2 linked regions of the Homo sapiens genome follow. The protein of the gene in region 1 purifies or fractionates together with the protein of each later gene. This does not show direct contact. Each region holds a gene or a part of one and is shown in the gene's direction. Other genes may lie near its edges.

What was found.
Region 2: the proteins of PTPRA (region 1) and GALNT12 purify together in Homo sapiens (affinity purification with mass spectrometry; 2 studies listed by BioGRID and IntAct, with this or other methods). This does not show direct contact.

What each region holds. Positions count from the first base shown.
Region 1 is NC_000020.11:2,868,643-2,876,485, forward strand, and holds the start of PTPRA (receptor-type tyrosine-protein phosphatase alpha isoform 1 precursor), read left to right. Parts: upstream 1-4,838; 5' UTR 4,839-5,118; intron 5,119-7,843. UniProt on the Homo sapiens protein: Tyrosine protein phosphatase which is involved in integrin-mediated focal adhesion formation.
Region 2 is NC_000009.12:98,838,665-98,845,697, forward strand, and holds part of GALNT12 (polypeptide N-acetylgalactosaminyltransferase 12), read left to right. Parts: intron 1-1,337; coding exon 1,338-1,469; intron 1,470-5,431; coding exon 5,432-5,545; intron 5,546-7,033. UniProt on the Homo sapiens protein: Catalyzes the initial reaction in O-linked oligosaccharide biosynthesis, the transfer of an N-acetyl-D-galactosamine residue to a serine or threonine residue on the protein receptor.

The sequences.
Region 1 (7,843 bases):
TTTTTTGTCCCCAGTCTTGGCCCCACAATTCCTCACTGCCCTGGTAGCTCTTTGATGCCTTTAAAAAATGTTTTCCCAGCTTTTCGAGTTCTCAATGAAAAAGGATTGCTATCAAACAACCCAGTTTTCCTCTCTGGAAAGGGAGGCTTGACCAGTGCTTTTAGAATGTACACAATACAAAACCCACATCTCCAAAGTAACATACAGTATATTTACTCATAGGCTATGTAAACAAACACTGTACATATGAAGTTTTAGAAATATGTGAGAAATAACTTTTAACTGATGACAAATGTATATCAACAGTGATTTCAACTTTATAAAAGGTGTGTGTGCATGTAGAGAAGCATTGGAATTGTCTATGGGGAGAGTTGCTTTAAAAAGGCAGTTTTGTATACTTTTTTGTAAAGTTAATCACTGATTTGCCCCCCACCTCCACAGTTTATTATAAAAACTTTCAAACATACAGCCAGGTAGAAATAATTTTACAGTGAACATTTGTGTAACTACCACTGGATTCTACCATTAGCATCTTACTATATCACACATCTGTTCATCTATCCATTCCTCTATGTCAATCCATCGTATTTTTCATATATTTCAAAGTAAGTTGCAGACATCAGTACACCTCCCCCTAAATACTTCAGTATGCATTTCAATAACTAGAGTTCATTTTTGGTTTGCAATTTTTTTTTTCTTTTCAGGCAAAATCTACATACATTGCAATCCACAGATCTTAAATGTAATTTTCTAAGTTTTGACAGATGTATAAGCCTATGAATTGTGACATTTAAAAACCAGAACTGGGATTTTCTTTTTTCAAATCCTTGCTTACTCAATTGAAATTAGTGTGAGATGCCTTCTGCCCTGAGCAGTTTGTACAGCAGGCCTATGCCTACATGGGTGGGCAGGGCCAAGTTTCGTCCAATGTATGACGCTAGGATTGGGGCTAGGAACTAGGACTGTGTAGCTGGAGGCAAAGAATCTGGGAACATTTCTTCTTGTATCAGTGGTAGCCAGTGCAGGGAGAATCAGGGCAAAGGCTGGGCGCAGTGGCTCATGCCTGTAATTCCAGCACTTTGGGAGGCTTAGGTGGGTGGATCACCTGGGGTCAGGAGTTTGAGACCAGCCTGGCCAACATGGTGAAACCCTGTCTCTAGTAAAAATACAAAAAAATTAGCTGGGGGTGGTGGCGGGTCCTGTAATCCCAGCTACTTGGGAGGCTGAGGCAGGAGAATCGCTTGATTGCTTGAACCCAGGAGGTGGAGGTTGCAGTGAGCTGAAATGGCGCCATTGCACTCCAGCCTGGGCAATGAGTGAAACTCTGTCTTAAAAATATATATATATATATCGAGCAAAGGCTCCTACAACTCACCTTCTCAGGGTAAGGGGCTGTATGTCCAGTCTCTTAGATACAAAGTTCCAGTGAAAGACTCTTGGGGTTGGCCAGGCGCAGTGGTTCACCCCTGTAATCCCAGCATTTTGGGAGGCTGAGGCAGGCAGATCGCCTGAGGTCAGGAGTTCAAGACCAGCCTGGCCAACATGGTGAAACCCTGTCTCTACTAAAAATACAAAATTAGCCAGGCGTGGTGGCGCATGCCTGTAATCCCAGCTACTCGGGAGGCTGAGGCAGGAGAATCGCTTGAACCCGGGAGGCAGAGGTTGCAGTGAGCCGAGATCGTGCCATTGCACTCAAGCCTGGGCAACAAGAGCAAAAACTCCGTCTCAAAAAAAAGAAAAAAAAAACTCGGGTTTGAACAGTGTGGCCTGCAAAGGGACTTGGCTCTCATTTACTTCACCTTTCTATCTTATTGCCTTGCTTTATTTTCATTTCAGCATTTAGGAAATTTTCTTGTTCTTTTGTTTATTGTCTGTGTTCCTATCCAGAATGTAAGCTCCTGAGAGCAGAGGCCTCTTCTGTCCTCTTCTGTCTTATTCCCTGCTGTGTCCAGCACATGGTCTGCACTCAATAAGTATTTGTTGCGAGAATGACTCATTGTTCCATTTACTAGAAGGGGAAAGGAGGCCCCGAGAGGGGAAATGACTTGCCTAAAGAAACAGGAGTCCTTTCCCCCCATCCTCCAGCTCTCCTGATCCTCTCCTTTGCTCATAAACCCTGTGACTGTTGGGGCACCTGTGGGGTGGCTGCGAAATGCCTACCTGTAGGTATGTGCTCCTGTGGGTTGGGACTAATGCAGGACTAGGAGTAGGAGGGCTCTGCAGTCCCCCATTTGGGTAGGCTTGGGCACAGGAAACTGCCTCCTTTCCCTTCCTCAGTTCTCTTCTCTTCCAGGATAACCCTTTACTCTGTGATGATGATGGGCGAGGGAGCTCAGGACACTCTGGGAGCCAAGTAGGATGGAGGGCTGGGCAGGTCTCTACAGGCAGGCAGCTGAGGAGGGGGCTCTGTCTTCTTCCAATGGAAACAGCATCTGTGTGGTTGCTGAGCTGAACCCTCCTTCCCAGGGTCTCCAGGGTCTGTAGTTCTCCTTGGTCTGTAGTTCTGTCACCCCTGTGCACACCCCACAAATGCTTTGACCATAGTGCAGCTGTCTCATGGGGAGAGAAAGAACTTTCATTTCCTGAGAATGGGTTACTTGCCAAGCTGAACATGCCTAATTCTCAATACAGCCCTGGGAAGTTCCAGGAAGAGTTGCAGAGGGAGGCTCAGGTCACCCAGCACATGGTGGGGCTGGAAACCCCGGGCTCTTTGACTACCACGCCCAACAACAATTTTTCCAAGTGTGGTCATATCCAAAAGGGGTCCTTCAGATAATCTCAAAGATGAACACTTACTGCAATCACTATTTCAGTTATATTAAAAATATAAGTAGCATGTCAACCCCTTCTAGGGTAATACAAATAAAAAGTAAAAAAAAACTAATCAACAAAAAGAAACATATTAAGAAATAATAGTGTAAATTAGATATAAGGCAAAAGTAAGCTGGTGGGGTTTGGTTCTAGAGCATAGGGCTGCTATCCCAGCTACTGAGGTACCTCCTGCGTTTGCAGTCATTACTTGTTAGGGGTTTTCACACTTTGACTTCCTGCTTTTCACTTTTCCATTCGGTGTTGCGGGATAGATTGAGTTTGGACTTAAGGGGATATGTGAATGTTGGGCGTGGGGAAGGATCCACCCTCACTGGGGTCTGAGCGTTAGGAGAGTAGGCGTGTGGACTCTGGGCCTTTGGGCTGGAGTGTCTATTGGTCAGAGGTGTCGGGTTCGGCCATTTCACCCTCACCTCTAGGCTGGCCCTGCTGAGAGGGAGAGAGAGTCACAACTCCCACTCAAGGAGAGACTTCCCTGCTGGGGAGGGGACGGCCTGAGGCCCGCCCCACCCATATTCCCAGGCCCTGGCTCTGGTTAGCATGGACTAACTTATTCCACAATACGGAGGAGTGGGGCACAGAGTCCCTAACTGGCGCCCCAACAGAAGGCGGTGGTGGGGACCGGAGATGGTAGGACTGGAGATGGTAGGGGCTGCTGATGTGAGCCCACAATACGGAGGAGTGGGGCACAGAGTCCCTAACTGGCGCCCCAACAGAAGGCGGTGGTGGGGACCGGAGATGGTAGGACTGGAGATGGTGGGGGCTGCTGGGAGCCCCTTTTGCGCCGCAGTGTTTCCTGCCATGAAGAGTTGCCGCCGGTCACAACCCTTCCCCGGGGGCGCCCCGAATGTGGGACTCCTTCCGGCCTGGGGTGCGTGAGGGGGACTCAGGGGTTGCCCGGTCTGGAGGAGAGACTCGCCGCCACCTACCCCGGGAACCGCAGACTCTGGGTCTGGGATAAAGCGTCCCCTACCCGCAAGCTCGGTTTGTGCGCTACTGTGCAATCTGTCTTTTGCCTGCAGACGCCCAGCCGCTCGCCCTGCGCGGGTCTCGGAATGTCCAGGGGTCCCTACTGGGGATCACAACCCGGCGAAATGTCGCATTTGCCACCACCTATCTCGACTGCGTAATCGGCTTTCAGCCGCAGACGCTCAGGTCCTGCAGCACCCGCGGGGATCCGTGTAGGAACCTGCTGCCGCTGGATGGACTGAGCGATTGCTTCGCGGGTGTCACGCACCAGACGCCGTGCCGGGAGCGCCGGGAAGGGGGTACGCGCCCCAACCCCGGCCGGGGGAGGGCGCACTCTGGCTCCTCTCTGCGTTTTGAGCCTCCCCTCCCCCGCCAGGCGTATCGCAAAAGGCACCTCCATCGCAGAGCACCATGTGTTGTGCTTCTACTCAGCTCGGTGGCGAGCGGGGCCCCAGCATGCGCATCTGGAAAGCGGGGGAGATTACCCTGGAGCTCGGGTGGGGACGGCGTGGGCTGACTTGATATAAGACGACACCCACGGAGCCAGATCCGTTCTAGGGACTTGGCAGGTTCCTCTCCCTCCCCAGTGAGATCCGTCGTTCTTTGCAGCAATTAGGGGAGGGAAAAAAAAGACCCACAGTATCACGTTTGGAGAGGGTTAGGAAGATGGCTCTCGAGTTGCAGGCCGCCCTGGTGGCTAGACATTGGTGTAGTTTGTGCCTGGCCTCGGTTTCCTGATCTGTAAACTGGGAAGAAGGCCCAAGTCATGAGGCCTGTGACTGTAGAATGGCTGAAGGCACTGGTGCACTCGCAGCCGGTCCTTCCGGGGTCCAGCTTCCCGAAGGACTGGGCAGCCCCGGGGCGAACCCCTCTGGAGCTACCAGGAGAACGTGCGACCGGGTTCGGCGCCCCAGCCGGCAAGTGAGCGCCCAGCGGAGCGCAAGGGCGGGGCCCGCGCGGGCCGGAGACGCCCGTTCGCTGTCGGCCAACCAGCGCCTGTCTCTGAACAGCCAATGAACACGCGTCTTACAGCCAAGGCCGGGTCGGGAGCGAGGCTGCGGCGAGTGCGGCGCTGACAGAGACGCGCGCGCGCGCGATCGCGCTCGGACCCCGGCCGCTGCCGCCATCACTGTCGCCCGCCCAGTCGCCCCTCAGCCGCTTCCCCTCGCCATGGAGGCGAGGCCGCCGCCGCCGCCGCGGGGCTCGGAGCCGCGGGCCGGGCGGCGGCCCTGAGGGCTAGTGGCGGCCCGAAACGCCGCCGCGGAGCCGAGGCGGAGCCGCTGTCCTCGTCCCCAGCGGTCCCGCCCAACGCCCGACTCTGTGAGTGTTCGCGGCCGCTGCGCCCGGGTGGGCTCCGGAAGGGGGAGCGGCTCCCGGGGGCGGTGGGAGGGGTCCCGGGCCACAGCCCAGAGCCCGGAGCCCGAAGCCCTAAGCCATCTTTTCCGGGTAGAAGCCTGCGGGCGCCTGCAGGTTGATTGTGCATCCTTGCGGGTCCGTCGCGGGGAGGGGGTCCCCGGAAACGTGCCGGCCCGAGTGCCGACCCCTCGCGACTGCCCAGGAACTTTGCATGCGTCCTTCTGGGACCAGGCCAGGGCACTGCCAGAGTTGATTCTCAGAGAAGAAACTTAGAACGGCGAGAACAGAATTTGCTCAGGTCCATTTAATGGGAGGAAAGAGGAAAACTCTTGGCATGAGAAAATTTGCTTTTGCAGTGACCAACTTTTCTTTCCCTTCAAGTCCACCTCCCTCGGTCCCCCGGCCCGTCTCCCAGGCCCCTCTCCTTGCCGCCCTCTCCCAACTGTTGAGGCTGTTTAAGAAGGGAAATAAGGGCTGAGAGCTGCCCAGAATTCAGAATAGGCCAATTGAGAACGCAGGTCCCCTCCCTTTTTACTTTCGGTAAATAAAAAATTTTTTTTGAAAAAATTAGTTACTAATTATATCTCCTGAAGATTAAAAAAAAAAAATAGCAGAGCAGAGTCCTGTCTTGAGGGTTTCGTTTTTATTTTTGAGATCACTGATGATATTTGTAAGACAGGAAAAGAAGAATGTGCAAATCCACCCTCTGCAGGGTGAACGCCATCAGAAGCCTTTGCTCAGGAGAGGGATTCCGGCTCTAGAACCAGTCCACATCACCCTGGAGATGGCTTCGTTTGCCACCTGCTAGCTGTGCAGGCAGCCTGAGAAACAGAAGATGGTGGGCGAGAGGAGGACTGACTAGGAAAGGGCGAACATCTTCCTGCCTGGCCACTCCTTTCAGAAACAGATCTGATGCTGTCACTTGTTTACTTAAAAACTCCCTCGCTTTTCTTTTTCCCATGGGATGAATGAAGCCTAAAATGCCTTATCAGGTCATACAAAGCCCTTGACAATCTTGCCTCAATTTACTCCTTTACTTTTAGCCTAATCGGATCCTCCAATTCTCCTTCCCCTCATCCCGCTTGCTGGCTAGTATTCAGAGCTGCTTGACTGCCCCCTCACATGTTGGGATGTTTTTGTTTTATGTGATCCTCTTTCTTCCCCACCTTTACCTGCCAAGCTCCACTTTTTCTTTTAAAGTTCTTCTCATTTGAGAAGCTTCTTGCGGGCAGGAGCTGTGTCTTGCCCACCTTTCTATCTCCCGTGGTGGGAGAATCCTCCAAGTTGTCTTGTAGATTCTTTCCAATCTCTTCTCTCTTATGCCTAGGCTCTGTTTATTTCCCGGTATCCACTTCCCAAGAGATTTTTTCGTGTTTTGAAGGCCTGCTTGGAGTACATGCCCAGGACTTTTAGTATTTCTGATTCCCGGCTTCCCCATGTCCATCCCACCCAGCCCCCATAAGCAGTCAGCAGGTGGGAACTGGTAGGTCCCATATCCCACTGGCCTCCAAAAAACTGTCTCTGAAAGACTAAAAGCCCTTCAGTCTCTTTTCACCTCTGCCTGCTCAAAGTGACCTGGCTGATACCGTGCATTGTAAGGCATGGTGGGATCCCGGGGCCTGTTCTCTGTTTAGCCACTTAACATCTGGGTGAAATACAGAACCAGAAAAACCACCCCTCTGACTTCAGTACATTCATGTGTCTTCCCTTTGCCAGGTGAATTGCTTGGGATACAAAAGTGAGGAAGTCAGTCCTTAACCTTTGAGGAACTCAGAGTCTAATGTAGGACAGGTGGATATAAATACATCACAGGTGCTATAAGATTGTGATAATAATAATAGCTATTTTTTATTTGCCTTGTGACAAGCTATGTAATGTTTTCCATGAATTCCCTCAGTCTTTTCAACAGTCATAAAAGGGCTTATTCCTACTCTACAGGGTTGGAAACTGAGGCCAAACAGTGGGCAAATGAGGGAATAGTCAAGATTTGAATTTTGGCCGTGTATTTGCAGAGCCTCTGCCAGGCTGTGTAGGGAGCATCCCCTGCCTGGGTGATTTGGGAAAGCTTTCCTGGGACGGGGGGGCCTTCGGATCATGAAGGATGCATAGGAGTTTGCGCGTGGTGGACTGCACACATAGGCAAGAGGGAGCAGCACAAGCAAACTTGGTGGTGGAAGGAATCCACTGTCCTTGGGGAGGAGGGAAGAGGTTAATCATAGCTGGATCAGGTAAGGACAATGGAGAGCTACTAGAGGATTTAAAGGAGGTCAGGGACTTGGGCTGAAAGAATTTTGGAAAGATCATTTGGGGGCAATATAGGGCCAAATGCAGATGCCCCTGCAATATAGGAGGCACTGGTTGGGTCTGACAGAGGTAGAGTCACAGCCTCTTAGACCCAGAGGAAGGTGTAGAGAGAATCCTGCTCAATTTTGGGAAAAGATAATTAATGCAGATGAGAGAAAAATTCAAAAGTTCTAGCAATACAAAAGAGTATATAGAGAAAAATGTCCCTCCTACCCTGGCCCCAAGTCTCCTGTCTCCCTAACCTCCTCCCCAGAGATGGCTGAAGTTTTCAGTTTATATGGCCTTCCATAGACACTGTTGCTTTATAAATATGTGCCTGCTTATCCATACTCCTCCCACCATGGGACGTACCACTCACACCTTACTGGGTTTTTTTACTTAACAT
Region 2 (7,033 bases), on another chromosome or scaffold:
CAGCTCTGCATGCTCCATGGCAGGGTGCCTGCTTGCCCTGCATTTGCATAACTAGTAGGGCTGCTTGGCAATACAAGAAGGTCTTGCTCTAAGGCTTCTCATCAGGCCACTTCATGGAAGTCTCTTCTGAGTCCTTCCAGCAACCCTGCAGGGTAGCAATAAAATTCTCATTTTATAGATGAGAAAACTGAAGCTCAGAGAGACGCTGTTGGAAGGAACTTGTCCAGGCCCTGTGGCTGATAGGAGGTAGAACTGGGCTTGGGGCCTGTACTCTGCAGCGCACCTCTTGCTCTGCTCTGCAGAGCCCATGGGTTCTCAGCTGGACTCCCACTCAGCCCCTCTCTGGCTCTGGGCTCCATGGTCATTTGCTTCTGCCTCCTCCGTCTTGCCCAGCACCATAGAGTAGAAACACCCACTCTTTCCTCATGCACAGTCTGGAACCCATAGTTCCCTTTTCCTGAGGGTTCCCAGAGAATATTTTAGGGGGGCACTGAATGCACCCTTAGGCTTCATGTCCAAGGCCAAGTGCTAAATGGATACTTGGCTGAAGCTGGGGGCGCAGTGACTTTCACCAGTGAAAGAACTCTGGGAAATAGCAGAAATCTGAAATCTTATTCAAACATGTACTTATTATTACCATTTTGTTCAATATTTAACTTGTCAGCTTTTAATTGTTTAACATGACAGTGCAGGTACGGTAATATTTCTGCACTCAGCATTTTTCTTGTGGCTGCACATTTGCGATACTAAATAGAGGCTTGCTGTATTTAATTATTCAAAAGCTCTCAGTCATTAGTTTTGCCCATAAAACCAAACTTGCATAAGTATTTCTTTTTGCTTATTTCATACTGAGAACATGATTACATCTAGAATATTTACCTGTGTTTGAAAGTGGATATTCAGATATTAGTAGTAAACCAGAAAGTCATGGCATATGTTTCGGTGAAACTGACATTTCCCTGGTTGGGTTTCAGGATGACTTCTGATCACAAGCATGGGTCACAGGTCCGGGATCCATAGATGCCAGTGCAGCCCCAGGGCTTGGCTCCTTCACTCCATCAGCAGGCGGGTTGTCCTCTACCCTTGTGCACCTGGTCACACCCCCCTGCCAACAGAGCACCTAGGAATGGAATTGTCTGTGTGACAGCCTCTCATACTAGAAGCTAGAATTAGGTGCAAGGATGTTTTCTATCCTCTGTGCTCCACACAGGGCCTGGCATGCGACGAATGCTCCATCAAAGCTGGCTGGTGGTTAGTAAGTGAGCATCAGTGAACACAGGGGCTTTGAAAGGAAGCACTAGGACCCATGGGGTCTCACTGTTTTGTTGTTTTCTCAGGAACCTTTTGGGGATGTGACAGAGAGGAAGCAGCTCCGGGACAAGCTCCAGTGTAAAGACTTCAAGTGGTTCTTGGAGACTGTGTATCCAGAACTGCATGTGCCTGAGGACAGGCCTGGCTTCTTCGGGATGGTGAGTGAGGGTGGTGGGCCCACGGCAGGCAGGGACTTCCCTGGCCTCTGGGTCTGCTCTGCAAATCCTGGGCAAGAAAGGCCACGTCATGGGGAGCACTGGCTTCCTCCACTCCCACCCGCCTGCCCACCCCCCACCACCTTTTTATCCACTGCCCTTCTTTCTCCCTGTGAGCGTCTGGGCCGTAGGTGCAGAATGTCAGAGCTGGAAGCCATCTCAAAATTGACAACTATTTTGTAGGTAAGGAAACTGAGGCTTATCTGGTGTTTCCATGTCCTAGTTTTTACCAACGCCTTATCATATTACTTCTAGTCTCAATGGCTGGACTAGTTAATAATTCCAAGTTTGGAAGTCTACAGAGGCAATAGTGGGTATAGGGGAGTCACTTCGAGTATTTCAAAAAACCTAAAAAATGTTTTTGGGATGAGACCAGATAAAATGTCCAGTGTCTTTTGTTTTTGCTGGGAATGACACCAGCTTAGCAAGGTCTCCTCTGCTGTGATGTGTTGATCAGAAGTGCTGGTGTTCCATTCTAGAAGTCTTTGATACATATAAAGCAGGATATTCATGTTACATTCTATTTTCATTATGAAAATATTCAAACATATAGAAATGCAGAGAGAATGGTATGAGAATGGTATAATGAATACCATCCCTGAGATTCTAGAATTTTCAAGATCCTGCCTCTCTTTATCTCTTTCTCTCTCCTGTACTTCACCTCCACATTTTCCTCTTTTTAAGCAAATCCCGGGCATTGTGTCATTTCTCTCCTCTGCATTTTATGCATTTTCATAACATTTGGACATTATCTTACAAAACCGTAGAAATGAACAAGTATTTCTTGGTATCATTTAATGTCTAGTTCTAATACATATTCCCCCAACTTTTCCAGTTTCTCTTTGAGTGGCTGGCTAATTCGAATTGGGATCCAAACAAGGTGCACACATTGCATGTGATGGTTGTGTCTTGTCTCCTAAATCTCTTTTAATCTAAGGCAGCCCTCTTCCTTTTTCTTGTTAATATCTTTAACTTGTTGAAAAAACAATATGTTACCTGTGGAGTGTCTCACTCTTGCAATTGCTATTTTTTTCTTTGTGGTGTCTTCAAGTTGTGCCTCTCTCCCCCATATTTCTTTAAGATAGAAGTGAGTTCTAAAGGTTTGATTAGAGTCAGGATCCACCTTTTTGGCAAGAACACTTTGTGGGTGATGTTATGTGTTCATGTTGTGTCATATCAGGAGCATAGGAAGTATGGTCATCTTTAGTGATAAGGTTGACCAGTGGGTTAATGGAGTATCCCTCACCTGGACCAGTCATTATAAGACCCCCATCAGCCTCTGTCTCATGTTTTTAGTAGCCACTGATAACCATTGCCTAGGCCCATTATTTCAAATGGAGTTGCCAAATGGTGATTTTTCTCTTTCATTTCTTCCACATTTATTAGCTGAAATTTTTCATAAAGAAGAACACTCCCTCATTAACTAAAGCAATTTGGTATATGTGAGTTTTAGAATTCATACAGAAAAGGCACGACAAATTCTTTTTTTTTTTTTTGAGAGAAAAGTCTTGCTCTTGTCCCCCAGGCTGGAGTGCAATGGCGCGCTCTCAGCTCACTGCAACCTCTGCCTCATGGGTTCAAGCAATTCTCCTGCCTCAGCCTCCCGAGTAGCTGGGATTATAGGCACCTGCCACCATGCCTGGCTAATTTTTTTTTTTTGTATTTTTAGCAGAGACGGGGTTTCACTATGTTGGCCAGGCTGGTCTTGAACTACTGACCTCAGGTGATCTGCCTGCCTCAGCCTCCCAAACTATTGGGATTACAGGCATGAGCCACCATGCCCGGCCAAGGCATAACAAATTCTTAAGTCTTTTCTTTATTTGCTTATTTTCAGAGTAAGAGTTGGTATTTTAGTTTCCTCCAGTTGTATCTACTGGGTTGTTTTTTTTTTTGTTGTGGCTCATTGTTTTTTTTGGCTTTTTCTCTTCTTGAGTGTCATTGTAAACTAATGGGTGTTTAAATAGCCGGTGTGCTTCAATCAATTCATCTTTTCTTCTTTGTATTGTTTTTTGAGACAGGCTTCTATTCTGTCACCCAGGCTGGAGCACAGTGGCACCATTGTAGCTCACTGTAGCCTGGATCACTGGGCTCAAGTGATCCTCCCACCTCAGCTTCTTAAGTAGCTGGGACTACAGGTGAGCACCACCACACCTGGCTAATTTTTTATTTTTATTTTTAGTAAAGACTAAGGTCTCGCTATGTTGCCCAGGCTGGTCTTGAACTCCTGAGCTCAAGCATTTCTCCTGCCAAGGCCTCCCAAAGTGCTGGGATTACAGGTATGAGCCACTGTGCCCAGCCCAATTCATCTTTTTAAAAAATATATGAAAATTGTTTTTGGCCAGTGGGAGTCCCTTTATTTTGGCTTCTGAGGTCTTTGACACCTTACAGTGGCGTTGATAGCCTCCTTGATTCTGGCCAAGTTGTCCCATTCGAGTTTTAAACATTTCCTGCCATTCCTCCCAGAAGCCCTGCTCCTTTGTTGGGTAACGGTATTGGGAGTCAGTCTGGATGCTGGCGGTGCCCGTTGCTATGCGTTGTCATTGCCTCCAGACCATGCAGTTTAACAGAAATATAATGAGAGCCACCGTTGTAACTTAAATTTTTTTAGTAACCATATTAAAAAAAAAGTAAAGTTAATGAAATGTTTAACTCAGTATATCCCAAATAATATCATTTCAACATATAATTAATATAAGTATTTATTCATTGAGGCATTTTACATTCTTTTTTCATACTAAGCCTTGAAATCTGGTGTGAATTTTATACTTATAGCATATCTCAATTTGGATTAGTTACATTTCAAGTGTCCAGTAGCCACAGTGGCCAGTGGCCGCCACATGAAATAGCACAGCTCTAAATTTTTCTCATTGGGCAGAGAAAGGAAATTCGTATTTTTGAGAAACAGATCATGAGCTTATATTAATATCTGAAAATCCAATGTAGTCTTGAAAAATTTTCTTTGATAGCATACTCATATTTCTTTTTTCTTACCCTGAAAATCTTGGTTTTAAACAATATTAACATAATTACTTATTTTCTTTATCCTAAAATATATTGAAAATAGTTTCAAGATAATTAATACAGTACTACAGCTTAGAGTATTATACTGAATGAGGTTTATAATTTCTTTGCAGCTCAGTTTGTTTATAGAATATATTTCATAGGTGGTATTTTCAAACATACCATGCTCTAAAGTGATTTAAATTAATTCTTTTTTTTTTTTTGGTGGTGGGGAGGACAGAGTCTTGCCTTATTGCCCAGGCTGGAGTGCAGTGGCATGATCTCAGCTCACTGCAACCTCCGTCTTCTGGGTTCAAGTGATTCTCCCGCCTCAGTCTCCCAAGTAGCTGGTACTACAGGTGCACCCCACCACACCTGGCTAAGTTTTGTATTTTTAGTAGAGATGCGGTTTTGCCGTGTTGGCCAGGCTGGTCTAGAACTCCTGGCCTCAAGTGATCCACCTGCCTCCGTCTCCCAAAGTGCTGGGATCACAGGCATGAGCCACTGAACCCAGCCTAAAATAATTCTTTCTTTGTGTCTATCGCCTGCTTGATTTAGTTAGCTTAATTAATCTAGTTCGAGGTATCAACCCAGGTATATTTGGACTTGCACAGCAGTAAGGCTGCTACTAATGAGAAAGAAAGAGAGAGGAGCTTTCAGGCCATGAAGAGTTTATCTCTCTGGTCCTCAGGCTTATCAACTTAAAATAGGGGTAAGGATTCTTGCCTGCAGAACAAGGAAGCACTTTTAAAGCTAGAAGGTGCTGTACAGAAAAGACTCTTACCTTTGCGTCTAGCTCTTGAAGCAGGCTCTCCTCTCATGCCAGGTACCCTCCCCAAGCCTTGTGTGGCATCTGTTAGTGTCTATAAATCTGGACTGAAATGCCACATTTATGTTTTATTTAGCTCCAGAACAAAGGACTAACAGACTACTGCTTTGACTATAACCCTCCCGATGAAAACCAGATTGTGGGACACCAGGTCATTCTGTACCTCTGTCATGGGATGGGCCAGAATCAGGTAGGTATGAGCCTCAAAAGAGGAGAAAGCTGTGTGTTTTGTTAAAAAAATTAAATAGTTGAATTTTTTTCTTGTAAAAGTAATATTTGGGAAATATAAAAAGTAGAAGCCTAGGGTGGCCAGACTCAGAGAGACCACTGTTAAAATTAAAATGTGTTTTCTTCCCATCATTTTTTACACATAACACACAGAGATTATGTGTTGTAAATAGTTGTCATAATGTCTGTATGTTTTATATTCCATTATTTCCATTCCCTTCATCTACTTTTCTTATGTTATTAGATACCCCTTGAGAATATCATTCCTAGTGGCCACTTGATATTTCATTTTGTACCTGTATTACTGTTTCGTTAACTGGTTCCCTGCCTCCCTGTCTTTGCAATTATAAATAACCCTGCCTCTAACACCTTGGGTCAGACAGAAGGAAGGATAAAGTAACAGATCTGCATTTCAGATGATTTCCTTAGAATTAATTGTTAAGTGGAATGACAGGTTTAATGCATAGGGCCACCTTGCAAGGTGGTGTTTAGGGACATTGCCTCAGCTGGGGGCCAGGTGTATCTGTCTGGGTGAAGGGCTGTAATTCAGGCTGGGCAGGGGAGATTCAGTCCTGGGGGAGTCTGAAGACCAGAAAAGGACCCCCAGCCCTGGAAAGCAGTTGACAGGACCCTTGGAGGATGCAGGAATGGAGAGAAGTGTTGGTTCTGGGCCTCTGAAGCTTCACCGTACCAAGGAGTTATCAGACACCAGGAAACAAAGGGATAGAGATTCAGATGTTGTTTTTTCCAATCTGGATTCACCCCAATGCCACTTGAATATGAGGCCTTCTTATGGTCAAGAGTAAACTTTCTTAATTCCAACCCCTGCAACCTTAAATTATTTAGGTTTTCAACACTGTTTAGAACAGCCTTCCTCAAAGCTGATGGTACCTGAGTGCTACCATCAGCATCATCTGGGAGCTTGGAAATGCACATTTTCAGACTGATCCCAACACTACCGAATCCCAGACTCTTGTTTTAAGCAGCTTTTCAGGAGATAATGGTGTGACAAGCCCTGCTCTGTGCGCCTTAAGAACACCCACCTGTGTCAGAATTTTTGAAAGGGGCTGGTGGGGTGGGTGGGTGTCTTGTCAAAGATGCAGAAAATGCAGCTTCCTAGGCCCCACCTCACACATAAGGAATCCTTATTCCGTCTCTGGGATGGGGCCAGCAATCAGCATTTTTAACAGTCACTGTAGGTAGTTCCTAGTACACTCAGGTAGGAAAACCATTGTCCGGGAAGAACCAAGTCTTCCCGTTAGCGGTCACATTGTCTGCTTGTGCACAGCACTTTACATCTTCTAGGAACTGTCATATTGGGGGTTTGGGAGGAGAGACTGAGGAAAAGGAGAGGAAGTAGCTAGTCAAGGTCACAGAGAGCCCCCAAGAGCTAGTGCTGCGATGGGTCCATTTCCCTTCCTCCCATCCCACACCAACACAGCATTCAGCA